Homo sapiens: one gene and its partners. The protein of the gene in region 2 purifies or fractionates together with the protein of the main gene of each other region. This does not show direct contact. Each region holds a gene or a part of one and is shown on either strand. Other genes may lie near its edges. The genes, in order: HADHB, EMC2, SDHA and SLC25A13.

What was found.
Region 1: the proteins of EMC2 (region 2) and HADHB purify together in Homo sapiens (affinity purification with mass spectrometry; 2 studies listed by BioGRID, with this or other methods). This does not show direct contact.
Region 3: the proteins of EMC2 (region 2) and SDHA purify together in Homo sapiens (affinity purification with mass spectrometry; 2 studies listed by BioGRID). This does not show direct contact.
Region 4: the proteins of EMC2 (region 2) and SLC25A13 purify together in Homo sapiens (affinity purification with mass spectrometry; 2 studies listed by BioGRID, with this or other methods). This does not show direct contact.

The regions. Positions count from the first base shown.
Region 1 is NC_000002.12:26,282,939-26,289,963, forward strand, and holds part of HADHB (trifunctional enzyme subunit beta, mitochondrial isoform 1 precursor), read left to right. Parts: intron 1-65; coding exon 66-113; intron 114-1,178; coding exon 1,179-1,266; intron 1,267-1,944; coding exon 1,945-2,019; intron 2,020-2,468; coding exon 2,469-2,633; intron 2,634-6,979; coding exon 6,980-7,015; 3' UTR 7,016-7,025. UniProt on the Homo sapiens protein: Mitochondrial trifunctional enzyme catalyzes the last three of the four reactions of the mitochondrial beta-oxidation pathway.
Region 2 is NC_000008.11:108,481,599-108,488,623, reverse strand, and holds part of EMC2 (ER membrane protein complex subunit 2), read right to left. Parts: intron 2,113-7,025; coding exon 2,026-2,112; 3' UTR 1-2,025. UniProt on the Homo sapiens protein: Part of the endoplasmic reticulum membrane protein complex (EMC) that enables the energy-independent insertion into endoplasmic reticulum membranes of newly synthesized membrane proteins.
Region 3 is NC_000005.10:235,300-242,324, reverse strand, and holds part of SDHA (succinate dehydrogenase [ubiquinone] flavoprotein subunit, mitochondrial), read right to left. Parts: coding exon 6,986-7,025; intron 5,898-6,985; coding exon 5,726-5,897; intron 1,968-5,725; coding exon 1,849-1,967; intron 1-1,848. UniProt on the Homo sapiens protein: Flavoprotein (FP) subunit of succinate dehydrogenase (SDH) that is involved in complex II of the mitochondrial electron transport chain and is responsible for transferring electrons from succinate to ubiquinone (coenzyme Q).
Region 4 is NC_000007.14:96,319,090-96,326,988, forward strand, and holds the start of SLC25A13 (electrogenic aspartate/glutamate antiporter SLC25A13, mitochondrial), read right to left. Parts: upstream 3,010-7,899; 5' UTR 2,868-3,009; coding exon 2,853-2,867; intron 1-2,852. UniProt on the Homo sapiens protein: Mitochondrial electrogenic aspartate/glutamate antiporter that favors efflux of aspartate and entry of glutamate and proton within the mitochondria as part of the malate-aspartate shuttle.

The DNA of each region.
Region 1 (7,025 bases), on a different chromosome or scaffold from region 2:
CAAACAAATCATCTCTGATTTCTTTATTTTATTACCAAAGCTCACCTCTCTATTTTTTTACCTAGGGATTTTATGTATGTGTCTCAGGATCCAAAAGATCAACTATTACTTGGGTAGGTAGCAGTTTGTATCCTTGGACTATAATCACAAGTATTTGATTGCCTATGTTTTATTATACTGGTTAATAAATGATTAACACTGGTTTATTATTTATTTGTTTATTACACTGGTTTGAGAGTATATTAAGCCCTGAGTTCATAATTGGTTTATGTGGTGGTTTTTTTAAAAAAAATAATAGTAATCTGGCCGGGCACGGTGGCTCACGCCTGTAATCCCAGCACTTTGGGAGGCCGAGGTGGGCAGACCACGAGGTCAGGAGATTGAGACCATCCTGGCTAACACGGTGAAGCCCTATCTCTACTAAAAATACAAAAAATTAGCCAGGCGTGGTGGCGGGCGCCTGTAGTCCCAGCTACTCGGGAGGTTTTGGCAAGAGAATGGCATGAACCCGAGAGGCAGAGCTTGCAGTGAGCCAAGATCACGCCACTGCACTCCAGCCTGGGCGACAGAGCGAGACTCCATCTCAAAAAAATAAATAAATAAATAAAATAGTAGTAATCCTTTCCATTGGTATATCATGTTACAGTTTTGGATTATTTTCCATTTTTTTCCTATAAGTTTTACATATATATATGGACACACACAACTTATATTCTTTTTCATTAAGATAGCATATGCATTTTTTCATATGGCTACACACCCTGCTACACAATCTTCCTAATATAGCCTTTTATAAAAGCCTCCCCATGTTTAGACTCTGTTCCGTTCCCTCACAAGGCTGTAGCCTCTAGCCTCCACTGTGACGTTCACATCAGTCAAGCCCTTTCCCTTGCCTTGCTCTTTGAACTCTGTTCTTCCAGTTCTTCATGTTATTAGCTTGTCCTTATCCCTCACTGTTTATTTATTATCAATTTCTCTGACTCTGCAACATAAGAGTAGAGGGCATGTCTGTACAGTTTCACTATTTTATCTTTAACATTTCATTAATCAGTACAGAAAAATCAAAGAATGAGTGAAAAGACATTAGAGTACCTATGTAAAACTCAGTTTGGGGAATATGAAGGAGCTCTTAGTTTAAAAATTAAAGTTTTAAGATATTACTTATTTTTTCTTTGCAGACCAACATATGCTACTCCAAAAGTTCTAGAAAAGGCAGGATTGACCATGAATGATATTGATGCTTTTGAATTTCATGAAGCTTTCTCGGTAAGTAATTTGAAAGACACATATGAAGGGACTATAGTCATAAAAAATGTCATCCATATTTGTGGGAGAGAGCAAGGCATGGTTTATGATGTGAGTAGAGCAGGAGTGGACCTGCATATTTTAAGTACTGATTCACACTGCTGGGAGGGGCCCGAGGGGAGGGAAGCAAGGGCCACACATACAGTGTTGGAGAACATACCAAATTGCTTCTTTAGGAAATTGCCATTGAAAACTGATACAAAGATTTGTTCAACTTTACTTTTTTTTTTTTTTTTGGAGACAGAGTCTTGCTCTGTTGCCCCAGCTGGAGTGTAGTGGCACGATCTCGGCTCACTGCAACCTCCGCCTTCCAGGTTCAAGCAATTTTCTTGTCTCAGCCTCCCGAGTAGCTGGGACAAGCAGGCGCCTGCCACCATGCCCGACTAATTTTTTTTATATTTTTAATAGAGACAGGGTTTCACCATATTGGTCAGGCTGGTCTTGAACTCCTGACCTCAGATGATCCACCCGCCTTGGCCTCCCAAAGTGCTGGGATTACAGATGTGAGCCACTGTGCCTGGCCGATTTGTTCAACTTTAAACCATACCTAAAGTTGTTAAACTTTCACAAACCATTCCTATAAGAAAGCGTAGAGGAACATGAATAACGAGGTTCTTATTCGATTATTTTCTCTTCCAGGGTCAGATTTTGGCAAATTTTAAAGCCATGGATTCTGATTGGTTTGCAGAAAACTACATGGGTAGAAAAACCAAGGTGAGTTTCTAATTTTAAAAAATGCGTGAATTTTCAAAGCACGTTAATAATTGGATCTTAGTTACCTGTTCTTAAGAATATGAAGGGAAAGCTTCTCTTTCTTTTGAAGAATTTTGTCTTTCATTAAAGATATTTATTTCTTAGTGTAAAAGTAGAAATTCTTGTATTTCATTAAATATATTTATTTCTTAGTTTAAAAATAGAAATTATTTAGCAAAAATAAAATTCTGTGTTTTTTGTTCCTTGCATTCTGACATTAGATGAAAAATAAATGGACTCCTGACTTTTAATATTGACCTAGACTTACTTTCTTTTGCAGTAAAATTATTTGTAATATGTCTGACGTTACGTATTTTCCTCTATCTCTCTTACTTCGTAGTACTAAGAGCCTAGCTTGATTCTGATCTTAAGTAAACTTATCTTTACATTTGTGTCTTTGGGGGAGCCAGGTTGGATTGCCTCCTTTGGAGAAGTTTAATAACTGGGGTGGATCTCTGTCCCTGGGACACCCATTTGGAGCCACTGGCTGCAGGTTGGTCATGGCTGCTGCCAACAGATTACGGAAAGAAGGAGGCCAGTATGGCTTAGTGGCTGCGTGTGCAGCTGGAGGGCAGGTACGTTACAGTGGTGTCATAGGACCCTCCAGAGAGTCATTTTCTTGGAATGACTAGAATGTATGATTTAGTTTGAAACCTTCTTAAAGCAATATTTTTGATGACCTGGGGGTGGGGAGTGGGGAGGGATAACAGCTGTAATTCTGATAAAACTTTTTGTTTTTTGGGTTTTTTTTTTTTTTTTTTGAGACAGTCTTGCTCTGTCACCCAGGTTGGAATGCAGTGGTAATATCTTAGCTCACTGCAACCTCCACTTCCCGGATTCAGGTGATTCTCGTGCCTCAGCCTCCCGAGCAGTTGAGATTACAGGTGTGCACCACCATGTCCAGTTAATTTTTGTATTTTTAGTAGAGACAGAGTTTCGCCATGTTGGCCAGGCTAGTCTCGAATTGCCGACTTCAAGTGATCCACCCTCCTTGGCCTCCCAAAGTGCTGTGATTACAGGCATGAGCCACCATGCCCTGCCATAATTCTGATAATTCTTTGGAAGGAAACAGCTATTTAAACCCAAGCTATTTTTCCCCAATATAATGTTTATTTTTTACTTATAAATATATGCTGATTATGAAAATTGTGGAATATATGAAAAGTATATAGAAAAAGTTAGAATCATCTATAATCTCCCCATCAGACATTAACATTATTAACATCTTGATATATTTTCTTCTTTAATAATTAACTTTTATTTATCTAGTCACCATAAGACTTTATAAAATCTCTCCAAGAGAGAAACTATCTTTCTAGAGAACTGAATTATACCTTAACTGGGGAGTTAATTTACTTCTGGATAACTTACTGCTGTTCAGCTGGGGAAATATATTGTTGACAGATTTTTTCCTTTCTACTTCACTTGCATTAGAGACCCAACTTCCTGACTGCTGTAGCATCTCACTCTAGGAATAAAATCCAAAAGGAAGATTGTAGTTTGTTTTTTGTTTGTTTGTTTTTTGAGACAGAGTCTCACTCTGTCCCCCAGGCTGGAGTGCAGTGGTGCCACCTCGGCTCACTGCAACCTCTGCCTCGCGAGTTCAAGCGATTCTCCTGTCTCAGCCTCCTGAGTAGCTGGGATTACAGGTGCTCACCACCAAGCCCGGGCAATTTTTTTTGTATTTTTAGTAGAGACGGGGTTTCACCGTATTGGCCAGGCCGGTCTCGAACTCCTGACCTCAGGTGATCCGCCTACCTCAGCCTCCCAAAGTGCTGGGATTACAGGCATGAGCCACTGTGCCTGGCCTGTTTTTGTTTTTTTTTTTTTTTTTTAATCCCGATGTGAACAGATTTTCTCTTCCTCTAGATTACAGAAACTTCCTGTTCCTGATCAAAATGAATAAATATTTAAAAGCATAAACTGGCCGGGTGCAGTGGCTCACGCCTGTAATCCCAACACTTTGGGAGGTTGAGGCGGGTAGGTCACTTGAGGTCAGGAGTTCGAGACCAGCCTGGCCAACATGGTGAAACCTTGTCTCTACTAAAATTATAAAAACTAGCCTAGTGTGGTGGTGTGCGCCTGTAATTCCAGCTACTCAGGAGGCTGAGGCAGGGGAATCGCTTGAACCCGGGAGGTGGAGGTTGCAGTGAGCCGAGATGGCGCCATTGCACTCCAGCCTGGTGACAGAGAGAGACTCTGTCTCAAAAATAAAGTAAATGAAATAAATCTTACGTTTAAAAGCCCTTTTTCATGGATTTTCCTCAGAGACTTTGCAGAAACCAAGGGGTCAGTTATTTATCAGTTGGAACATTTTGGACTTTATGATCACAAATGCTTTTTAATCTGTGTAACTTCATCTACAGAAAACCATGGTCCATTAAGACTAGAGCGATCCCTCTATCTCTTCATGCCAGGCTTCTACCAGGGAGATAACCTGTACACATTACTCACGAGCATAGTGCGTAATCCACATAGGGTAATGTCTGCAGATTTGAGTATGTGTTCCCTAATTCTTTATCTAGCATGTAGAGTATAAATAACACAATACTGGATGCTTTTATGGATGAACAAGGAATAATACCTAGCACCTTTCTTCTAGAAGTTTATAGTATGAAGAGAGAAGATAAGATGCATCTGAGAAACTAGATTAAACTTGACATTGTTTGATCAAGAGCCACGTGAGCAATACCAACATGGTTGGAGACAGAGGAGAAATCCATCGTGGTGAATCTAGAGCAGGGTTTCTCAACTTTGGCACTAACATTTTGGGCCAAACAATTCTTTGTTTTGGGGGGCTGTGTGTTGTAGGGTGTTTAGCATGGCCTCTACCCATCGGATAGCAGTAGCAACAAGCTCCTCCCCACCTCTGCCCCAGGTACACACGGTTGGTATAACCAAAAGTATCTCCAGGTGTTGCCAAATCTGATCTAGAGCAAGAAAAAACATGGAACATGAAAACAGTGTGTTTAAAATAAAGCCAGAGAGGGCTGGGTGCGGTAGCTTATGCCTGTGATCGCAGCATTTTGGGAGGCTAAGGCAGCTGGGTGGCTTGAACGCAGGAATTCGAGACTAGCCTGGGCAACATGGCAAAACCTCGTCTCTACCAAAAATACAAAAATTAGCCAGGTATGATGGTACGCACCTGTGGTCCCAGTTACTCAGGAGGGAGGTGAGAGGATTGCTTGAGCCCGGGATGTTGAGGCTGTAGTGCGCTGTATTCACGCCACTGCACTTTAGCCTAGGTGACAGAGTTGCCTTGTCTCAAAAAGCAAATAAAGAAATTAAAATAAATAAAAAATAAAATAAGCAAGCCAGAGAGGAGTAGTCTACCTTATTATGAATTCTTTCAGGACAACCCCCAAGTCAGTCAAACCTTCCTATCCCTGCTCTTTTTTTGTCTGCTTGTGCCTTTTCAATGTACTTAACATGCCAGGTGTGGTAGCTCATGCCTGTAATCCTAGCACTTTGGGAGGCTGAGGTGGGCAGATTGCTTGAGCTCAGGAGTTCGAGACCATCCTGGACAACATGGCAAAACCCCATCTCTACTAAAAATACAAAAACTAGCTGGGCGTGGTGGTGGGTGCCTGTAGTCCCAGCTACTCGGGAGGCTGAGGTGGAAGTATCACCTGAGCCCGGGAGGTTGAGGCTGCAGTGAGCCGTGTTCAGGCCACTGCACTCCAGCCTGGGTGACAGAGGGAGGCCCTGTTTCAAAAAAAACAGAAAAACCAAGTACTTAACAGTTTGTTTTGAACTCCAGTGTATACTTGATTGAGGACAAAGACCATGTGGCAAATCTTTAAACCTGCAGTGTTCAACTTGGCACTTTGTAAATAATAGTTTCTTTTATTTACTTTTTTGTTTTTTAGAGGGTGTCTAAAAATTCTATGCTAGGATTTAGACTCATCTAAACTAAGGACATAGCTAGTACATAGCACTGTGCATAGTGCTGGATAAAAGATATTCTACTTCTGGCCGGGCACAGTGGCTCATGCCTGTAATCCAGCACTTTGGGAGGCCGAGGCAGGCAGATCACGAGGTCAGGATATCGAGACCATCCTGGCTAACACGGTGAAACCCCATCTCTACTAAAAATACAAAAAATTAGCCGGACGTGGTGGCGGGCGCCTGTAGTCCCAGCTACTCGGGAGGCTGAGGCAGGAGAATGGCGTGAACCCGGGAGGCGGAGCTTGCAGTGAGCTGAGATCGCGTCACTGTACTCCAGCCTGGGCAACGGCGAGGCACGGTCTCCAAAATAATAAATAAAAAAAATAAAAAAAGAAAGATATTCTACTTCTTCCCTTTGTGGTCCCTCAGATCATTATCTTAACCTGTGTAGAATAGTGAAGAAGGGACAAGCCCAGCCTTTGGAATCATCTAGACCTGGTTTCAAATCCTGGCCCTGTTACCTTAATAGCTTTGTGATTTGGGTGAGTCACTTAACCTTTCAGAGCCTCAGTTTTCCCCTCTAGAAACTTACTTTTATTGGTATTTGCTGTATCATGTTTATGTTTATACAGTTAAAAAAGCCCCTGGATTTCTCATTTTAACAGCATCCATTTGTAGAGCATCACTAGGAATTAGATTCTGTACTAGACAGAGCCTGATGCATATATGTATACATGTATATATGAATGTATATAAATATATATGTGTGTGTATATATATACACACATATACAAATATACTGTATGTTATGTGATGCCCACAAAAACTCTATGAAGTAGACACTATGAGCCCCATTTTGTAGAGGAAATTCCAGTTTAGACTGACTACAAACTTTCCCAAGATCACAGTGATTGATTGGCAGAGCCAGGATCCCACTCCAAAGCCTGTACTTTTCTCCTTGTTCTCTGCTGTCCCTGTACTAGGTGGATTCATCACCATTCATTGCTCTAATTGGACTTTGTTTTCTTTACAGGGCCATGCTATGATAGTGGAAGCTTATCCAAAATAATAGATCCAGA
Region 2 (7,025 bases):
TAAAGAAGAAATAAAGGTAATAGCTGTAGGCAACTGCCTGCTGTAATGGGATTATCAGTACATTTAAGTTGAAGTTTATAAATAACTAAGGATTGGCAATGTGCTTAACAAATATAAAATCTTGGAAAGAAGTTATTAAAATTTTGAAAAAATAAAGTGATACTGGCCAGGCTCAGTGGCTCATGCCTGTAATCCCAGCATTTCGGGAGGCTGAGGCGGGTAGATCACTTGAGGCCAGGAGTTTCAGACCAGCCTGGCCAACATGGTGAAACCCCATCTCTACTAAAAATACAAAATTAGCCAGGCATGGTGGCACATGCCTGTAGTCCCAGCTACTCAGAGGCTGAGGCACAAGAATCGCTTGAACCCGGGAGGAGGTTGCAGTGAGCTGCGATCACGTCACTGCACTCCAGCCTGGGTGACAGAACGAGACTGTCTCAAAAAAAAAAAAAAAAAAGTGAAACTAAGGCAGACAGCTATAAGAGGCACTGAATTACTTATTACACAAATATAATTGCTAGAGTAAACACTAATCCAGTGACTGACGGGGAGGAGGTTTGAAGGGGAAAAGGTAGTGAAACAACGTGCAGGCACTATTTTCTTTACAGAAAATGTAAATTTCAAATGGTTCATCATGTTGAAAATGCAGTTACTAATTTCATGTGTACAAAGACGGGATCTTTGTGGTAATAAAGATTAGTAGAGAATTACCTTCAGATGAGAAGAGTTCTTTCACAGAATATATTAATCAGCTGCCTATTACTCGTGGCAGAATAAAACGAAAATGACTGTAATATGAAAGATTAGACTAGATATGGAGAATAATTTATTAGCAGAACTATTCAAAAGGTTAAAAGAAGCTGATATTGACAATACTTTTCTTTCTAAACACTTCTAGATTGTCAATTCCTCCACAATCCCCACTTGTCCAAAGCAGCAATGACAAGTCTGTAGATGCCTCTGTATATTTTTAGTAAAAATAAATTTAAATATATTTATTATAAACAAATACCATAAATATTTGCGGTGAACAGTTGCTATTTTAAAAACTGATTTGTGTCTAAATGAAATTTAACTTTCAAGTCTCTTCTATTTTGTTGAAACATGTCAAATACTGTTGAAGGTAGCATAATGGTTGTTTATTATGAAAAGAGAAAAATAAAAAATTCTAACTAAGGTAATGATAGAATAGGAAAATTTTAACATTTTTGTTTCTAAGGATAGTTTTAATTTTCTTATTTTTTTCAAAATTAAAAATAACTACAACCCCTTTAATCCCTACTCTTTATGATTCTTTAATATTCTTTCATGTAATTTACTATTAAAGGATTCAATAAATATAACTTGCATAAAAGTTAAAGTGTCGTAACACATATTTATCTTAAGGCATTTTATATGTAAAAATCTCAATTATGTCCTATATCAAAACAAAAATTTTACAAAGAAATATTGCTGAACTTTGGAGAATGACATATTTTAAGCAAGATTCATCAGAAGGATATTACAGCAGATAAAACAATTCAAATAGCCCACTGGAATGTACAGCAAAATCCAATTCGACAATATAAACAAAGTCAAAATAATCTGCTTCGGTCAGCTACATATGCTGTGACTTTGCTATCACCAGTAAGGAGTTAACTAGAAACTGAGTTCTTAAACAATATATCCACTGTGAGTATAACAAAATGAAGTTAGAATCTTCATATGCAAGTTTAATAAATCATCATGGTTTATTTAACAAGGTTATACTACATTAGAGTTTTATATATATACATGTATATGTGATATGAAGAGACTGATGTACAATCAATAAGTCTTAAATCTCTCTTCCATGGATTTCCCCCATCTCCCCACTTAGCAGTAAAAGGCATTTTTAGGTTTATATAAACACATTCTTTACAACTGCCTTCTTAACAGAAAATTACTGTAGTATATAAATAGCACTGAGCATTTAGTAAATAAGTTACAGGCCAATAAGTTCAATTGTGCAGTTGTGAAATCTAATGTCAAAGAGTTTTTGAAACCTTAAGACTGGGTGATCTGCAATGTTTCCAACATGTCTTCGACAGCCTTAAGAGAATATTTGGTTTCCTTCTTACTTCGACCTGCAAACTAATTAAAAAAAAAAAAAAAAAGCTCAATTAGGCTCAATTTCAGTGGCAGGTTAAAAATGACAATCTTCACACTGTTAATGAAACTTAACATTGACTATTTTATCACTAGTAGGAAATCAAATATATTCTTTGCTTTTTCAATAAGAATAAAATTTGAGTATTAAGGACATTTTCCTTTAAGGTCTTACCTTCAGCTGAAGTGTACAGAGAGTTCACTGCACACTTGGCCAGTTTAAGTGTTTACATAATATAATAACCCATAAAATCATGTATTTGAAACTATCTTATTCAGACCAAAATAATGAAATAAAAAGTATAATTTTAAAATGCAATTTAGCTTATATTTATGTAGTGTAGCAGTGTGAACCACTTCCACTTGTCTGATGTCTAAACAGATTTTTACAATTTCAAACAAAGGTACAATACAAATACAAGTTATTTCACTAAACATTTTAAAGTTGCAAGTACTCTCTAAAATTATTTAAAGTAGCTCATAATTTTTTTTAAGTTTCCAGATTTATTAGTTAACTAAATGATATGGTTCTGCAAAGAGCTGTCAAGTAAAAACCTATGCTACACATTAAAACAATGTAAACATGTTTTAAAATATGCATTTCTACTTTATTAATTGTAATTTATTTACATTATAAAACTAATTGGGATTGGATTTTACTATGAAAACAAAATAAATACATCAATATATACACAAAATATACCCTATATTTGTGTATTTAAAAGCAAATTCATGGCATATTAAATTCAATATCATACACATAACCGCTGGAGGGAAACACTGTTGAATACCACATGCTGATTTCAAAATGAGTTTGTTAACTGGACTGACAATTCCCATCATTTATCAGTCTGATTTAAAACAAAAGATTTACTAGATAAGTAAGTGTTCCTTGATGGAGATGGGAGAAAGTTTATTGTGTGTGTATGTGTGTGTGTGTGTATATATATATACATATATATATTATATATATGTATATATATTAATTATATATTATGTATATATTTTATATATATATGTTACCTATATATATTATATATATGTATATATATTAATTATATATTATGTATATATTTTATATATATATATGTTACCCATTTTCTCCCTGGTTAAATATGATTAAAATACTTGGTATTAGCAACATCTAGTGTTTTCAAGTTAACATCAAACCACTCAATACATTTTCAAGTGAATGATCATTTCTTCAAGTAACAATGCTGTCTTAAGCACTTAGTACTTGATTTATGATGTGTTTCTTGTCTTCTGTAATTAACTTAATTTGGCAAACTTCTCATGACCTGTTCAGAAAGATTAAGTGATCAAACACAGGTAACATCATAGAAGTAACAAGCTTCAGGAATTGGTAACCTGTCTCTGACCCCTCTGGCTACAGCTTAACATTATGATTCCCTCACTTCCTACACTCTAAACCATTAGATTAGTTTCTGTAGCTGAATCCTGATTTGAAAAAGTAAATAAAGGATGTTTCTAGGGGAAATGCCAGAGGAAAAAGAAAAAAAGCTTCTCATAAAAATCAAGATCACCTTGCCTTTCAAAAGGCATCACGAATTTAAGGAATTCATATGTTAAATATGGTAACAGCAATATCACATTTAAAATTTTGTCTTTTTATAATTTCCCCTGAGGACTAAAGGCTGTGAGGCATGCTTATTACTTCTGTTATCCAGTTAATAAATTCACTTACACAAGGATTTACCAGAAACAGAAAGCTTTTTCATTTACCACCATTTATGAAACATAAATAGGAACGGTCCTAATCAGATACTTAAAGGTCTAATTCTGAGAAAAAGTTTTATGGGTTGGGGGAGGGGTACAGAATAGGACATCACATAGTAACATTACCACGTAACATTTATTCTAATTGCTTTTAAATAGCAAAGTAAAAATAAAAAAAATTATGTAGAGCTAAAACCATAACATGTATTTTTAAATACAGTATTTTTCTTGGTTTATACTTAAACATAAAAATAATACAGTGTGATCTTTTAAAATTAGCTAATTTTAAAGAGTCAACTGAGATGGTGTCAACATTACTCACAACCAGTGCAATTTAGAATAAACCAAATAAATTTACTTGTGTCAGAACAAATAAAAGAAAGTTGGAAATACAAATCTATCACTTCAAATTTAATCTGACATGCAATTATTCTGTCTATTCCAGAATTGTATGGCAATTTAACTGATTAAGTCAGAATCATTTTTTCCCTCAAATCATGATTTAATTTTCTGTTTCCCAAAAGGATAGTAACAGAATCACTGCTGCAATCATAAATATCATATAAATCACTAGCACAGATTTACCAGTGCAACAAAGAAGGATTTATCTGGAAAATCATTGTGAGTAGGTTCACATTAAAGTTTTTCATGTGCATTAATCAAATGTGTCTGCTTCTACTGAACATGCTAAACCAATTACCTAATTGACGAGCAAATAGTAGCCATATTCTGTTTCATCATTAAGTGGAAACAAAGAAAGAAAAGCAGTTCTTGAAACCTAATTTTCCCTAATTTATAAATACGTAGAAAAATCCCATACGAAATATTATATACTCTATACCGGTTTATATTCCTAGATATGATTAAGAAATTCTCACTGAGATCCCAAAGATTTACCTAGTTATCAAGAATGTCATTCTCTGAAAGTTATATACTCTTTTACATTATTCACAAATACTGTATTTTTGTTTTCATACAGTTAGATTTTGCTTAAGTAAATCTTTCATAATTCTCTGTAAGATCTATAAGAAAACTCACCAGAAAAAAACACAAAAACAACCAAACAATAAAAACTTGCTTATCAAATTCAGAGGTCAGTGATTCATGCATTGTAATAACTGAGATACCTTGCTTGGGCTTAAATTTACCTTTACATAATTTGTGGAAAATACATGGGTAGACAAAGTAATAGGAAAAATGAAATGGACTGTAAATGAATGAATCTCAAAAACATGCTGAGTGAAAGAAGCCAGACACAGAAGAGCACATAACCTATGAACTCATTTATACAAAGTTATAGCACAAGCAAAACTAATGTTTGGTGATAAAAATCAGATCAGTGCTTGTCTGTCTCCCAGTGGGGGATGAGGTTGACTGCAAAATGGCAGAAGGAAAGTTTCTTGGGTGATGGAAATGCTATTTTGAGTGGGGGGCTGGTAAGGGGATGTACACATTTGTCAAAACTCAGACTGTATACTTAAAATATATGCACTTGATTACATGTAAATTATATCTCAATATACCTCAAGGGGGTCTTGTCACACTGAAGAGACAGGGAAAAGGAAAAACATAATAACTTATGTTTTAATTTCTTTAATTCTCAGAATATTTCATTATGGCCATCTTGCAGAAGAAAAGATACAGCAAGAGATGTTAGGTAATTTATCCAAGTTTGCATAGCTAATAATTATATCAGAGTCAAAATTTGAACCCAGACAACATGGGTTCAAATCTGTAATCTTCTCTTTACTACATTGAACTAGCTTCCATGGACGGGACTCATGATGGAACACAAAGATGGACAGAAACACTGGATATCCATATGGGGAGCAATGGACCCCCTATTTCACATCATACATAAAAATCAATTCCAGGCCAGATGCGGTGGCTCACACCTATAATCCTAGCACTCCATTGGGAGGCTGAGACAGGAGGATTACTTGAGGCCAGGAGTTTGAGACCAGCCTGTGCAATACAGCTGGACCTCATCTCTACAAAAAATTTAAAAGTTAGCCGAGCACGGTGACATGCGTCTACAGTACCAGCTAGTTGGGAGGCTGAGGCAGGAGGATAACTCAACCTGGGTGGTTGAGGGTGTAGTGAGCCATGATCATGCCACTGCACTCCAGCCTGGGCAACAGAACCAACCAGATTCTGTCTTAAAAAAATAAAAATTAAAAATTAAAAATAAATCAATTCCAAATGGGTTGTGGATTAAATACGAAAAGTAAAAGAATAGAAATTCTGAAGACACACAGAATTCTTTATGACCGTGAGTAGCAAAAGATTTCTTAAACAGAACACAAAAAACACAAACAAATGACTGAGGCATTCGAACACATTTCATTTCAGAACTTCTATTCATCAAGATCATATGAGCAAAAAAGTAAGAAGTTATACATATTTGCTTATACATATAACTAAAAAAGGGCTCATAAGCAAAAAACTAAAGAAATAAGTCATGCAAACCAATGAGAAAAACATTTCACGAAAGAGGACATCCAAATGGCAACTGATCATCAGGGACATGCAAAATAAAACCATGAAGTACCACTCTACACATGTACCAGAATGGCTGTAATTACAAAGACTGACAGAACCATGTGTTGGTGAAGATGTGGGGCTATTAGAACTCTTACCGCTGGTGGGAGTAAACTAATTTGGAAAATTGCCTTTAACTACTAAAGTTAAATATACATACATTCTATGACCCATATTTTCACTCAAAGGTATACAGAACTGCACATATATTCCACCAAAAGACCTGTACAGCAATATTCAGTATAGTTTATTCAAAATAGCCCAAACAGAAAATATTCCAAATGCATAGCAATAACTAAATTATAACATTCATACAATGAACTACAGAAGAAAATGAATGAACTACAGACACAAACAAGGATAAATCCCATAAACTGAATAATGATAGAAATATGCAAGACAAAAATGAATACATACTGGCTGATTCCATAAACTATAGGGTTATAAGTGAGTACTCTTAAGGAATACAAAAGGAGAAATTAAGAGGACTTACCAAGAGAGCTTTGGGATGCTGCAATGTTTATATTTATTAGCCTGGATACATTTACCTTATATTAGTCACTGAAAGGCACATTTATGACTTGCATCCTTTTTTCTGTTATAATTCTTATTTCTATGTT
Region 3 (7,025 bases), on a different chromosome or scaffold from region 2:
CCCTTGCCCTCATTCTGGTAAACCAACAGCCTTCTAGCGTGGGCGTCATGGCCATCAAGAGCATGTCACAGTGCTGCAGAGATTTTGTTTATGGTCAGTTTTGGGCCACATTTGGGGGCCTGTTCCCAAAAATTTACCTCATTTCTTTTTTTTGCTTCTTACTATGAATAGCCAGACTCAGCAGAAAAATCCCTTCCCCAACGGAACGCATTTCCACGAGCAGAGGAAACTCTGTTTGTTCAGTGCTGACTCCAGCATCTCGTGGAGCCTGGGATACAGCAGGCACCAAGACACACCATGTTTGGTGGGAATGCTTCTAGTATTCTCACTTTAAACTATCTCATGGATTTGCCATTTCTATATCCGAAGGCATGTTCCCATTCTCTAATGCAATGGTTCTTTCTTTCCCAGCTGGCCTCCAACCCTACAATAGTACTGCAGGGCATCACTCAGCCTTCTGTGCCTTAGTCACACTGTTCTTCTCACCATTCCACAAAGCCTCCCTGAAGCCCAGCTTCACTTGAAGACTGAAGGGCACAGGCCTCTGAAAATGTCAGCAGGGAACCTGTTCTCCTGTGTCTAACACCACATAGGTGTTAGACACCTATTTCAGAATAGGACTAAAGCAATGGACTTTTTAGAAAATACACAGAAATTCTTGCAAATAGTAGGCAAGAGATCTCATTCATGGACAAGAATCCTTGTTATTAGAGGAATTCAGTTTCTTAGACTGACCATGTATCAGGTTCTCCACGGCCCCATGGCTAATGGCTGCCATACTGGATGGCAAACACTCGGAACATTTCCATCATCACAGATGGTCCTACTGGACCGACTCCCAGCAGCACAGGCCACAGATCAGTTTCCACCTGCCGCCCACTCTCCCTCTCTTCCGAGTATATTTAGAGGCAGCAACAAGTCCAGCTTAAAGACATTTCCGAGCTGCTGGAAGCCAGGCATGATGACATGATCGATATCCGGGCCTGAGATGTAAGCACCAGTGTTGTGTTGAACTCCAGGAAACCTCTAAGAGAAAGCTGCCCTGCTGGGGACTGAGCTTCTCCAGCGGTCCTGCAGTTCCCTCTCCTCCACGCTGTGACTCATCCATGACAGCCAGCAATGGTCAGGTCACGGAGGTCACACCCAAGCACACACGAGTGAACCACAGAAGGCTGTCCTGGATGCCAAGCAGTCACTAATTCTGCCCTAGTCTGCCGACCTTCTATGTGGAAAAGAAGTGCACTTCTGTATAGTTCAGGCCTCCTGGTCTCTTTCATATTCTTGATACGGTGAGGAGTACGTCCTACCGCTGTTTACCTCCAGATACTGGTGCAGCCTTATGTATTTATCGCAGCACTAGTCACAACAGCAAAGTCATGGAATCAACCTAAGTGCCCATCAACGGATGACCAGATGAAGAAAATGTGGTACATATATACCATGAAATACTACTCGGCCATAAAAAAAGAACGCAATCATGTCTTCTGCAGCCACACGGATGGAACAGGAGGTCACTATCCTAAGTGAAGTGACTCAGAAGGTCAAGTGTCACACATTCTCACTTGGAAGTGGAAGCTGAATGGTGAGTACACATGGACACATGGAGTGGAGTAGCAGAGACTGGGAGCTCCAAAAAGCGGGAGGGGTGGGGTTGAACAATTACCTACTGGGTACAACACACACGACTTGTGTGACGGGTACATGAAAAGCCCAGACTCCACCACCTCCCAGTACATCCACACAAAACTGCACCTGCATCCCCCTAGATCTAGTTTTTAAAAAACAAAACCAGTGCAGGGCCAGGTATGCAGCCCTCCTGCTCACTCCAGAGCGAGTCCAGGCTCTTACCTTCTGCATGCTGAGTCGCAGTTCCGATGTTCTTATGCTTCCATCAGCAAATCTCAATTTGTCAAGATTCATGACAGATTCTTCCCCAGCGTTTGGTTTAATTGGAGGGACTTTATCTCCTAAAACAAAAAAAAGCTAGAATTTAACTTTTGAAAACCGTTTTAAAAAACCAAATGGATTTAGAATGACACACAAACATGTAGCACAGCCACTCAAGGAGCTTGGAAACTCTGTAAGTCTCCTGAGCTAACACACTGCCAGCCCACCCTACAGCTGAGGCCATCTGTTGAGTTGGGGCCAATTTTAAAGAACATAAAGGCAAAATTGTTGGCACACAGTAGATATCCATTAAGTGATCTTAGAGTGAATAAACTAGAAATCATCTCTAAAATTAAAAAATTAAATGTAGGCCGGGTGCGGTGGCTCACGCCTGTAATCCCAGCACTTTACGAGGCCAAGGTAGGTGGATCACTTGAGGTCAGGAATTCAAGAGCAGCCTGGCCAACATGGCAAAACCTCGTTTCACTAAAAACACAAAAATTATCTGGGTATGGTGGCACGCGTCTATAATCCCAGCTACTCGGGAGGCTGAGGCATGAGAACTGCTTGAACCCTAAAGGTGGAGGTTGCAGTGAGCCGAGATCGCGCCACTGCACTCCAGCCTGGGCAACAGAGCGAGACCCTGTCTTAAAAAAAAAAAAAATTAAATGTATACAAATTTATATATATTAAGTGTATATAAATGTCACTCCACTAAGGGAAAAAAGAGACACCTTCCAGATGGTGGTCCCAAGGGGCCGGCCACCCTTCACATCAGCGGGGGGAAGGTGGCTGCTGTGTGCTTGAAAGTCACCTGTTGATTTGGACTCTTATGTGCTCTCAACTATACTTCAAGATTAGCAATTTTTTTTTTTTTGAGATGGAATTTTGTTCTGTAGCCCAGGTTGGAGTGCAGTCAGTGGCACCATCTCGGCTCACTGCAACCTCCATCTCCGGGTTCAAGCAAGCCTCCTGCCTCAGCCTCCAGAGTAGCTGGGACTACAGGAATATGCCACCATACCTGGCTAATTTTTTGTATTTTCAGTAGAAATGGGTTTCACCATGTTGGCCAGTCTAGAACTCCTGACCTCAGGTGAGCCACCTGCCTTGGCTTCCCAAAGTGCTGGGATCACGTGTGAGCCACTGCGCACAGCCAAGATTTGCAACTCTTGTGTTTCTACGATGTCTTGAAAAAAGTTTTTAAGTTTTTTTTATAACGTTATATATATTTTCTTCAACAGGTAATACATGCAGGAGGTAGGATGTATGAAATGCAGGAGTCAAACAGGCCCCACCCCGCCCACCACCTCTCCACAGGACCAGGCTATGGGTCTCTTGAGGGTCTGCTCAAATGCTTCTAGGCTCGCTGGTGTTTCTCTTCCTTTTGATAATAATGCTTTAAAAATTGATCATTCAGTAAAATTGACTTTTTTCTTTAGGTGGACAGTTCTACAATTTACTTTTTCTTTTTTTTGAGACAGTGTCTCCTCCCTCTCTTGCCCAGGCTGGAGTACAGTGGTGTGATCTTGGCTCACTGCAACCTCTGCCTTCCAGGCTCCAGCAATCCTCCAACCTCAGCCTCCCAAGTAGCTGGGACTACATAGGTGTGAGCCACCATGCCCAGCTAATTTTTGTATTTTTGGTAGAGACGGGGTTTCACCACGTTGCCCAAGCTGGTCTCGAACTCCTGAGCTCAAGCAATCTGCCTGCCTCGGCCTCCCAAAGCGGTGGGATTATAGGCGTGAGCCACTGCACCCAGCCTCAGTTCTACCAATTTTAACACATGTATAGGCGCATGTAACCACTTCGGGAGGCTGAGACAGGAGGAACACTTGAGGCCAGGAGTTCAAGCCCATCCTGGGCAACACAGGGAGACCCTGTCCCTACAAAACATTTTTAAAAATTAGCCAGGTGTGGTGGTGTGCACCTGATCGTACCACTGCACTACAGCCTGGGCGACAGAGGGAGACTATCTCTTAAAAAAAAAAAATACATATATATGTGTATATATATGTATTTTTTTTTGCAGGGGGTTTTGGGGGAGAATAGTGATGCTACAAGCATTTTTTCTTTCCTTTTCATTTTTGAAAATTAAAGCATAAAGATACAGTAAAATAAACTCATCATTTTTAGTGTAGGGTTTTTCAAATTTTGACACACACAGAGTTGTGTCTGTAAGTCTCAGCACAATCAGGAAGCAGCCTCTGGCAACCACCAATCCCTTGTCTTCCCTAGATGTGCCTTTTCCAGAATGTCGTATCAACAGAACCACAGGCATGCAGCCTTTTGAGTCTGACTCCACAGCATTCTGCGTGAGATGCTGCATGCGTGGGCGGTTTCTCAGATGTAAAGTATAGGGTATTCTTACAAAATGTTCTTTTTTGCATTTTCAAAGAAAGAGCAGCTCAAAATTTCTACATTGCTCTGAGAGAAGTGGTATCAGTCCTCACTGCGACAAAGTGCAGGGCTATGGAGTGAGACAAGCACTACCTGCGGCGTCAGGAACGATGGACCTGAACTCCGCCTTCGCCGATGATCACCAATGGCTGGGGATGAGACGCCAGCTCTGCGTGTGCTGGCCTCCCGAGCGGTGGTCAGATCCAGAGACAGAGTGTCTGAAGTAAGCTACCCTTTTAATACTATCTGCACCTTTCTAACTACAGATACAAAAGGGGGCACGTTTATAAGTTACAGCCGTGCTAGTTTTTATTTCACTTGAATCCATACAAAAAGCACCTGTTGTATAAAAACAGCAGAAATGATGCTAACAGTTAACACCAGAGAAAGGTAACGGGAAGAACATGGGCCTGGGGTCCCACCATCCTTGCCACGCAAACATCCACCAGTGCCTCATCCACCTCACACTGTTCTGAGCACACGAGGCTGGATAACCACCGTGAGGATGTCTGGAGGTGGGAGAGATGCTAACTGCCCCGTTCTTAGTGCACGTAAGACTCACACTCCCACACATGGTATTTCCTTTACTGCACATTATTTGATGCTATCATGAAAAGAAAACCAGCAAGTGAAATCCAATCTGTCCGTAAAGGGTGGGAATCCTGTTCACTGTAAGTCATCCCTTCTCCTCTAATAGAGGCTAGCTGTACTTTGTTTCTAGAATGGCCTAAATTACTTTTCTAAGTACCAAGAAGTTACATATTCATTCATGCCAACTACTTAAAATATTTCATTGCAAATAAGTGATTTTTATCAGGCAAGTAATATGTAATGATTCCCCTAAAAATAACAACTTTCTAATAGTGCTTTTTCTAAACAGAACATAATGACTGCAAAATAATTAAAAAAAAATGTAACCCCAAAAATGTCACCTTAACTGTTAAGATCCCCAACCAGCCTCTATCTAGTCTCAACATTACCACCATATAATTTCTGGATTTCTCAGTTTAATCACTTCTGGGGGAAAAACCCAGACTACCTCTATATGATCACTAAGCAAATTTCCAGTAAGAAATCAAGGCTTTGTAACCTGGCTGGGTGCAGTGGCTCATGCCTGTAATCCCGATACTTTGGGAAGCTGAGGCAGGACTGTTTGAGTCTAGGAGTTCAAGACCAGCCTGGGCAATATTGTGAGACCCTGTCTCTACAAAATAAATTTTTTTAAAAATTAGCCAGGTGTGGTGGTGCACATCTGTAGTCCCAGCTACTTGGGACTCTGAAGGTTGAGGTGTTGAAGACTGCTTGAGCCCGGGAGGTTGAGGCTGCTATGACTGTGCCACTGCACTCCAGCCTGGGCTGACCCTTTCTCAAAAAAAAGAAAAAAGACTTTCTAACGTCCTGCGCCTTCTCAAATAGTCTGGCTCCTGAAGAAAACACTTACCAGGCCTGCATGACTCTTCGATGCTCAGGGCACATGCCCGACCAAAGACAACCAGGTCCAAGAGCGAGTTTGCCCCGAGGCGGTTGGCACCATGTACCGAGGCACAGGCGGCCTCCCCACAGGCGTACAGGCCGGGCACAATCTGATCCTGGCCATTCACGTGCCTCAGGACCTGTGGAAAGGAAGATTTCAGGTGAAATGTCAAGGTGCCCATGCCTCCACCAGCCCACCTTCCCCAACAGGGTGTCTGTGCTGCAGGTCAGAGAGAGGGAAGTAGGCCAGGCGTGGTGGCTCACGCCTGTAATCTCAGCACTTTGGGAGGCTGAGGTGGGTGATCACCTGAGGTCAGGGGTTCAAGACCTGTCTGGCTAACACGGTGAAACCCCATCTCTACTAAAAATACAAAAATTAGCGGGGCATAATGGCGGGTGCCTGTAATCCCAGCTACTAGGGAGGCTGAGGCGGAAAAATCACTTGAACCTGGGAGGCAGAGGTTGCAGTGAGCTGAGATCGCACCACTGCTCTCCAGCCGAAGCAACAGAGTGAGACTGCATCTCCAAGAAAAAAAAAGAGAGGGAAGTAAAGACCGTATCTAAGAGGGAAGTAAGGACCATAGCTACTCTTCTTCAGAGGGAAGCTTCCGAAGGTATCCCCCAGTTTCCCCTCTGCCCCTGAGCACCTGCTGTTACAAGCAGGTCAGAGGACCTCCAATGTCAGCATCTGCGACTGTCCCCCGTGTCCCATGTTCCCGGGGCCCTCACCACCTGTGCTCCGGCTCAGACCCAGGAGCACGGCAGGTGGAGGAACATCAGCAGGGGAGACTGATGTTCCAGACTGTTCTACCCCGTTCACCTCTTCGTCTACGCAGGGAGAGCAACAGCTTCCACCCACCTCGCCCAACAAGGAGCCTAAGTGACTGACAAGCTCTGTGTGAACCACAAACCACTCAAAGGAATGAATTATAAAGATCCCTTGATGTGTAAGATCATTAGAAATAACACAAGATCATATAGGAAAGTAATTACAAAATGGAAAAAGCTGCAAATGATGTATCTCTGACAATTTACTAAGGAGGAATAAATTATTAAGCCCCCTCCATCCTCCGGTAATAGAAATTTAAAGTGCAATCTAGAAAACAATACAGTACTTTCTTGAAGGAAACATCTATCTTTTCCTGTAAGATCTAAAGAGACAACTGCGAGGTGGGCCCCGTCGTCCCAGCCTTCTTTCCAGCTGTGGGGGAGGAGCCAGCACCATCACCTGCCCCTTGTAGTTGGTGGGAATGCCGCCCATGTTATAA
Region 4 (7,899 bases), on a different chromosome or scaffold from region 2:
ATAAGTTAGACCAGCAGCTTCATTGAGGGACCTTTTAAGGCCACATTTACTGCACTGCCATTGAGTTATAATGAAGGACATGATAAGAAATGGCCTTATGTAACCCACAGACATATATCTGTGGTCACAAGGTAGATTCAAATGCCGTTCACTCACAGCATATAAAAGAAACTGCTCGGCTGGGCGTGGTGGCTCATGCCTGTAATCCCTGCATTTTGGGAGGTTAAGGCAGGCAGATCACGAGGTCAAGAGATCCAAGACCAGCCTGGCCAACATGATGTTGGCCTACTAAAAATACAAAAATTAGCTGGGTGTGGTGGCACGTGCCTGTAGTCCCAGATACTTGGGAGGCTGAGGCAGGAGAATCACTTGAACCCAGAAGGCAGAGGTTACAGTGAGGCAAGATCATGCCACTGCACTCCAGCCTGGCAACAGAGCAAGACTCCATCTCAAAAAAAAAAAAAAAAAAAAAACTGCTCTCAGAGAGCAGTATAAGGAGACTTCTCTCCCAAGTAAATGACCTCACTGATCATTTCCTCTTTGCTTTGGCTGGGAGAAAATGCAATCACCTCTAGTAAGCACATAATGTTCCACTAACCTTAGTCCTGGCTTTGTCTTACTTTCCCTTTGTCCTGTTTTTCCCATCTACTTGGAATTGATTTTTATATATCTTATTGGATTGCAAAATAAGTATATATGATGTGAGCCATCAGATATCACAGAAAGAGGTGAGTGCAAATGAAGACATAAACAAAAACACAAGCTCCCAAGTAGTAAAAATGAACATTTCATTTTCCCTGACTCAATACTTAGCTAAAAATCAACTGCCCTTGATATGTGACACTTCTACTATTATGTAGAAGTACAACCAAAGAGTTGAACTAACTTCCATATCACTTATTTTATGTTTTGTCGTTGTTGTTATTTGTTTTTGAGACAGGGTCTTGCTCTGTTGCCCAGACTGGAGTGCAATGGCACAATCTCGGCTCACTGCAATCTCCGCCTCCTGAGTTTAAGCGATTCTTCTGCCTCAGCATCCTGAGTAGCTGGGATTACAGGTGCCCACCAGCACGCCTAGCTAACTTTTTTGTATTTTTAGTAGAGACAGGGTTTTGCCACGTTGGCCAGGCTGGTCTCGAACTCCTGGCCTCAACTGACCCGCCCGCCCCAGCCTCCCAAAGTGCTGGGATTACAGGCATGAGCCACAGCACCAGGTCACTTATTTTACTTAATATTACTCAAGTCTTATACTCCATTTCTATGCACACGTCTCAATTTATGTTCCTCAATTACCTTATCTCCTAATAAAGTAAAAGTATTTACATTACCTGCAGATATAAAACTAACAGTAAAGAATGGGTACCTAGTCCCACCTACTCTAGGGAATTAGTTCATACCAAGCCTTGTACCTTGGTTGCATGCAAATTTAATGCAAAAAAAAGGTCAAGGGCTATTGGGCTTGAAAGGGTTAAGGCAGCTTCCAAAATTGAATCCTAGTGATGCTCAGAGAAACTGCTGAAAAGTTATAGATAGATATACACACGCACACCTGTGTGTTCATATGCAAACATACATGAGCCCACACACCCAGAGTACTTTCCTAAGGATGAAACTCAGAGTAATTACAGAAAAGAGAAATGCCACTTAGACCACAGAAACTAACAACATGAAGAAGCCTACGGATTTGGGGAGCCTGGAGAGACTTAAGTCATAGAACAGCATTTAAATATATTTGTCTGCTTACAATTTCCATTGCAAATGTGATTAGTTTGCTTGAATAAATAGGAATATGATGTGTTGGCCATGTTTTCCTCTTGAGGGTTATCACAGAGTTTTGATTAAGGACAAATGTTTGAAATGTTAGGTATATTTAAGTTCACTGCACTTAAAATGAGCTAAGAAGTTGTATAGGCTTGATTAGAGGGCTGCCTTCGTGAACTTAAATTAAAAGCAATAAATTCCAAATGATTCAAGTGATTGGGACTAAATATGGTATTCTGCCAGAGAAGTTGAAATGCAGTCCAAAGAGACTGAAATGGTGTCCAGGTTTCAAGAAATGGTGAAAGAGGAAAGGTCAAGTGTTGGAGTTGCCTTTCCTCTGGGTTAGTGAATGATTCACATTACACAGAACCCCTTTCAAGTACAACTTCACAGGAGTGACAGGCTCCCAGGACAATCTGTTTCATCGTTCCCAAAAAGAAGCCTCTCAAATGCTCCGAGGCGGGTATCTAAGTGTTGTCAGATGGAGAGAGGGAGGGGGAAGATGGGAATGATGGGAAAGCGGGGAGGGGGAGAGTCCCTGGACTTTTTATTCACAAAGGCGCAGACCAAGTCTCCTAGGCAGTTTCCAAAACGGAAGTCAAAGTAACTTCCCCACCCGCGGGAGGGCGGAGCCCTTGAAACGTAATAGGATCAGGCTTCAGCCCGGGCTCTGGCCCCTGGAAGAAGCCGGAGTCAACAACCAGCGGGGTCAGGAGCAGGAGCGCGCTGGGAAGGTAGAGAGGACCCCCAGCGCTTGCCGGCCCAGGGTGCACCAGGCCCCAGTCGCGCCCGCTCCTCCTCGTCGGCCCTGGCTCAGCCCCGTCAGGCACCAACTTCCCTCCCCGGCCAAGTGGGAGTGTCCGGCCCACAAAGTTTCCGCTGCGAGGTCGGGCCTCGGTCTCTGCACCGACCGCCTGTGCTGCCCGGGAGGAGTGGCCCCCTCCCTCCAGCAGCCGCAAGGTGGAACGGCTGCCCGGCACCCCATTTTGCTCCGCCTGTGGCACCAACCCAGACACGTGAGCGCCCGAGCCTCTCGCACCCCCAGGCTGATCCGGCAGGCGCGCTCCCCCCGGCCTCGGGCCCGCGGTTACCTTGGCGGCCGCCATGATTCGCCCCGGTTGCGGGCGACTGCGGGACCCACTGACTGGCTGGCTGGCGTTTGGGACCCGGGCGGCTCACTTCTAGTCCCGGCGGCGGCGGCGGTGGGGGCGGCGATACGGCCAGGCAGCGTGCGTTCCTGGCCTGCCTCCCCACGCCCTCCCGCCGGCGCGGGTCATGTGGATGCTGCCCGCCCATTGGCTGGGCCCAGCCTTGGCCGCCGGGGTGCGCGTGATCCAGCGGCCTCTGCCCTGCAGCCGGGGAGGGCTCAGATCCTGGGGCAGTGGCTGGACAGGGACACGTGACCCCGCTGCGCTGTCCAGCAGCGGCGGCCTCTGCGGCGTGGGCAGAGGTAACTTGGCCGTGTGCAAGCCCGTCACCTGAGGGCAGGTGGCCCCACCAGGGAAGCTGCTGGCTTCTGCTGATACCAGGGGCTACTGGGCCCTCGGACCGATGGGAGGGGCAAGTAACGACAGATGGTGCACGGCCTGGGGAAGTTGAGAACTCCACTAGGACACATACTTTGCTGGATATTTTTTCCCCTGTGCGTTCCCTTTGAAGGAGCTCCACTTTACACTGGATCCAAAAAGACTTTGATCCAAAAGCATTGACTTAGAAGGCGAGATTGCAAATATTGCTGGCACGCCTACTTTTAGATCAAAATCGGTGAACTCTTAAGAACCCAACAAGTGAATGTAGTGCAGAACGTATATTCATGAAACTACTCCATTTCAGCCCTACCTGTTAAAACGGTAGAAGTCAAAAGGCCCGGGTCAAAAGACTTCCCCCAAATAGGCCCTACTAAAATAAATAAACAAGCATTTTAATGAAAATTTGCTTATATGACCTCCAGGCCTTACTCCTCTTCATCAGGATTTCATTCTTCTGTCCTTGTAATCAAAATTTATAAGACAGTGGTGATCAGGGAAAAGGACTTTTAATGTATTGTAGGTTGTGGATGTAATATGGCAGCAAAAAGCACTTATTACTAATCAGTTTAATTCATTAACGTTGATTGAGTGCCTTCCTACTATGTGCTAGGCACTGTGCTTGGTGCTGGAAACCCCGAAATGACTTAAGAACTGGTTCCAACCGTTAAACAGCTTCAGGGCTATTGGGAAAGAGACACATAAATGTTTACTTCAGTATAACCTGTTAAGGCAGCAGACTGTTCCCAGGGCTCAATAAGAATACTGAGAATTCTCATGCCACTATGAAGAAATACCTGAGACTGGGTAATTTATAAACCAAAAGATTTAATTGACTCAGTTTCGCATGGTTTGGGAGACCTCAGGAAACTTACAGTTGTGGTGGAAGGCACCTCTTTACAGGGTTGCAGGAGAGAGAATGAGTGCCAAGCAAAGGGGGGAAAGCCCCTTGTAAAACCATCAGATCTCATAAGAACTCACTATCACAAGAACAGCATGGGAGTAACCGCCCCCATGATTCCGTTGTCTCTCACCGGGTCCTTCCCATGACATGTGGGGATTATGGGAACTACAATTTAAGATGAGATTTGGGTAGTGACACGGTCAAACCATATCAAAAGGTAACTTGATCTTGAGCTATGGGATTGGGGCAGTGGCACGACTAGTGGAAGGAGTCTGGCCCAGCAGGTAGGGGCTGTGTCATGGTGGGTCTTAGGCGCCTTGCTGAAGGGTATGCACCTTAACTGAAGGGTTTTAAGTCAGGAAGCAGCATGACTAGGTTTTCGATATAGAAAGATCTCTCTATGGTCTGAATGTGCCCCCCAAAATTGATGTGTTGGATACAATCTCTAATGCATCAGTGTTGGAAGGTTGGGTCCTTGGGGAGGTATTTTCATCACAAGGGCTCTGCCCTCATAAATGGATTAATGCTGCCATAAAAAGAGGTTTGGGGAGTGGGTTCACTCTCTCTTGCTCTTCTGCTCTTTTGCCATATAAGAACATAGCATTCCTCACCTTTGAAGGACACAGCATTCAAAGAGCCATCTTGGAAGCAGAGAAACCAGGCCGTAACCTGCCAGCACTTTGATCTTGGACTTCCTAGCGTCTAGAACTGTGAGAAATACATTTCCGTCCTGTTCTTCTAGTCTCAGGAATTCCCTTACAGCAACACAAAATGGACTAAAACACTGCTTGCAGTATGGAGGATGGGTTCCAACTGAACTACCAGGATGTCCAGACGAGACAGGCTGGGGATGGGCTAGGACTAGAGGAATACATAGAAGGTAAAATTAGTGGGGTTGGGACGGAAAAAGGGAGTTGTGCCATATTGCACATAGACTTGTGGTATGGGTGTCTGGAAAAACACCTGAGATTGGTAATTCAAGAGGAGTGTTTTGAGGTGTGTGAGTCTGTCTGTAAGGAGAATGTATGTCCAACATACAAATTATGTTGTAGAAGCTTAAGAAAGAAGCATTACAGAAAGAAGCAACTATTTAACCTACTCTCAAAAGGTTCAACAAAGCCCAGAAGACTTGACCATGTTCATAGGCAGAGAAGAAAGATCAGCAAAAAGTAAAAAAAAAAAAAAGACAAAAGGAAAACCAGGAGAATTGTTAGAGAAAATTATGACAAGGGGACAAGTCTGAAGCTCCTGTGGAGGATGGCCCCAGCTGCCACAAGGGGAGTGTAAAAGGAGGTGAGAAAATACAACCTCATGTAAAGAACAAAATTACATCATGTACCACGTATTTATTTTTAAGGGCATCATTAAAGCTCTCCTTTTATAATGTAAATGAAACAAAAAATTTTTAATGTAATAAAATATACATAAAATGTACCATCTTGACCATTTTGAAATGTACAGTTTAGTAGTGAAATACTTTCACATTGTTGTGCAGCCAATCTCCAGAACTCTTTTCATCTTGCAAAGCTGAAACTCTGTACTCATTAAACAACCACTCCATCTCCCAACCCCCTGACAACCACCATTCTACTTTGCTCCTATAAATCTGACTACTCTAGGTACCTAATAAATGGAATCATATGGTATTTGTGTTTTGTAGCATAATGTCTTCAACCTTCATACATGTTATATAGCATGTGTCAGAATTTCCTTCCTCTTCAAGGTTGAACAATATTCCATTAATTTTTTTAATAGAAAAAGTCCATTATACTTCTTCTTGACATTTTTGAAAATTCAGAAAATCATAGTAATGGCCAAAAAATCACTGATAATCCTATCAATAGAGTTAGCCATTGTTAACATTCTACTGTATTTTTTCATGTCTTGCTGTGCTTATGTGTGTGTATCAAGACATATTTATTTTACTTTATTTTTTGTTTTTGTATTTCTTGAGACAGGGTCTCACCCTGTTGCCCAGGCTGGAGTGCAGTGGTGTGATCTCAGCTCATTGCAACCTCCTCCTCTTGGGCTCAAAGGATCCTCTCACCTCAGCCTCCCAAGTAGTTGGAACCACAGGCATGCACTGCCATACCCATCTAAATTTATATTTTTTGGTAGAGATGGGGTTTTGCCATGTTGCCCAGGCTGGTCTCAGACTCCTGGGCTCAAGCAATCCTCCTGCCTCAGCTTCCTAAAGTGCTGGGGCTACAGGCATGAGTCATTGCGCCTGGCCTATTTTGTTTATGTATTTATTTTTAAGACTGTTGCCCAGGTTGGAGTGCAGTAGCGTGATCTCAGCTCACTGCAGCCTTGATCTCTGGGGCTCAATTGATCCTCCCATTTCAGCCTCCCAAGTCGCTGGGACCACAGGCACACACCACCATGCCCAGCTAATTTTTGTATATTTTGGTAGAGATGGGGTTTTACCAGGTTGCCCAGCCTGGTCTTGAACTACTGGACTCAAGTGATCCACTCACCTTGGCCTCCCAAAGTGCCGAAATTATAGGCATGAACCACCCACCTGACCATATTTTTGCATTTAAAACGATGAATTATACTCTGTGTTAGTTTCCTGTGGCTGCCATAACAAATTACCACAAACTTGGTAGCTTAAAACAATAGAAATTTGTTCTCTTACCATTATGAAGGCCAGATGTCCGAAGTGAGTCTTGTGGGGCTAAAATCAAAGTGTCAGCAGGACTGTTCTCTCTCAGAGGCTTTACAGGAGAATGATGTTTCTTTGTCTTGTCTAAGGGCTCATGGCACCCTTCTTCACCTTCAGAGCCAATGGGCATAGCACCATATATCTGACTCTGCTTTTATCACATGACCTGTCTGTCTGTAACCTTCCTCTACCTCCTTTTTATAAGGACATGTGTGATTGCATTTAGAGCCCACCTAGATAATCCAAAGTACTCTCTCCATCTCCAGATACTTAATTTGATCACATCTGCCAAGTCTGTACTGCATAAAGTACCATTCAAAATCTCTAGGGATTAGGATCAGGACATGGACATATTTAGGGGGCCTATCATTCAGTTTACCAAACCTACCACACTATGGATACATATTGTAAAAGTATATTTCAATTTACATTTGGAGTCATACTTACTTGATTAAGCTCCCCTCCTCATTCTAGAATTCCTCAAAATATGAAATTTTAAAAATATTAAACTGTCATGAACCTAGAAATAAAGAAGTCAAAGATGCTCCCTGGGCTCCATTTCATCTGTAAATAACAGCATGATGTGAAACATCATCTAAGAAGATAAAGTGTGAACTGGCTAGGTATCTTTCATTTTTTCTTATCATTACAGGCTTACATGCCCTCCTGATATTTGTCCCTCTTCACTATTCCCAGATTACCCTCTTTCCTACCATTAACAGTAGCTGGCACTGAATTTTGACTGAAAAGGCCCTGTTATGGATTAAATTGTGTCATCCAAAAGTCTTAACTCCCCAGTACCTACGTATTAGTTTGTTCTCATGCTACTAATAAAGACATACCCAAGACTGGGTAATTTATAAAGGAAAGAGGTTTCATTGACTCACAGTTCAGCATGGCTGGAGAGGCCTTAGGAAACTTACAATCATGACAGAAGGGGAAGCAAACATGTCCTTCACGTGGCAGCAGAAAGGAGAAGTGCTGAGCAAAGGGGAAAAGCCCCTTATGAAACCATAAGATCTCATGAGAACTTACTCATTATC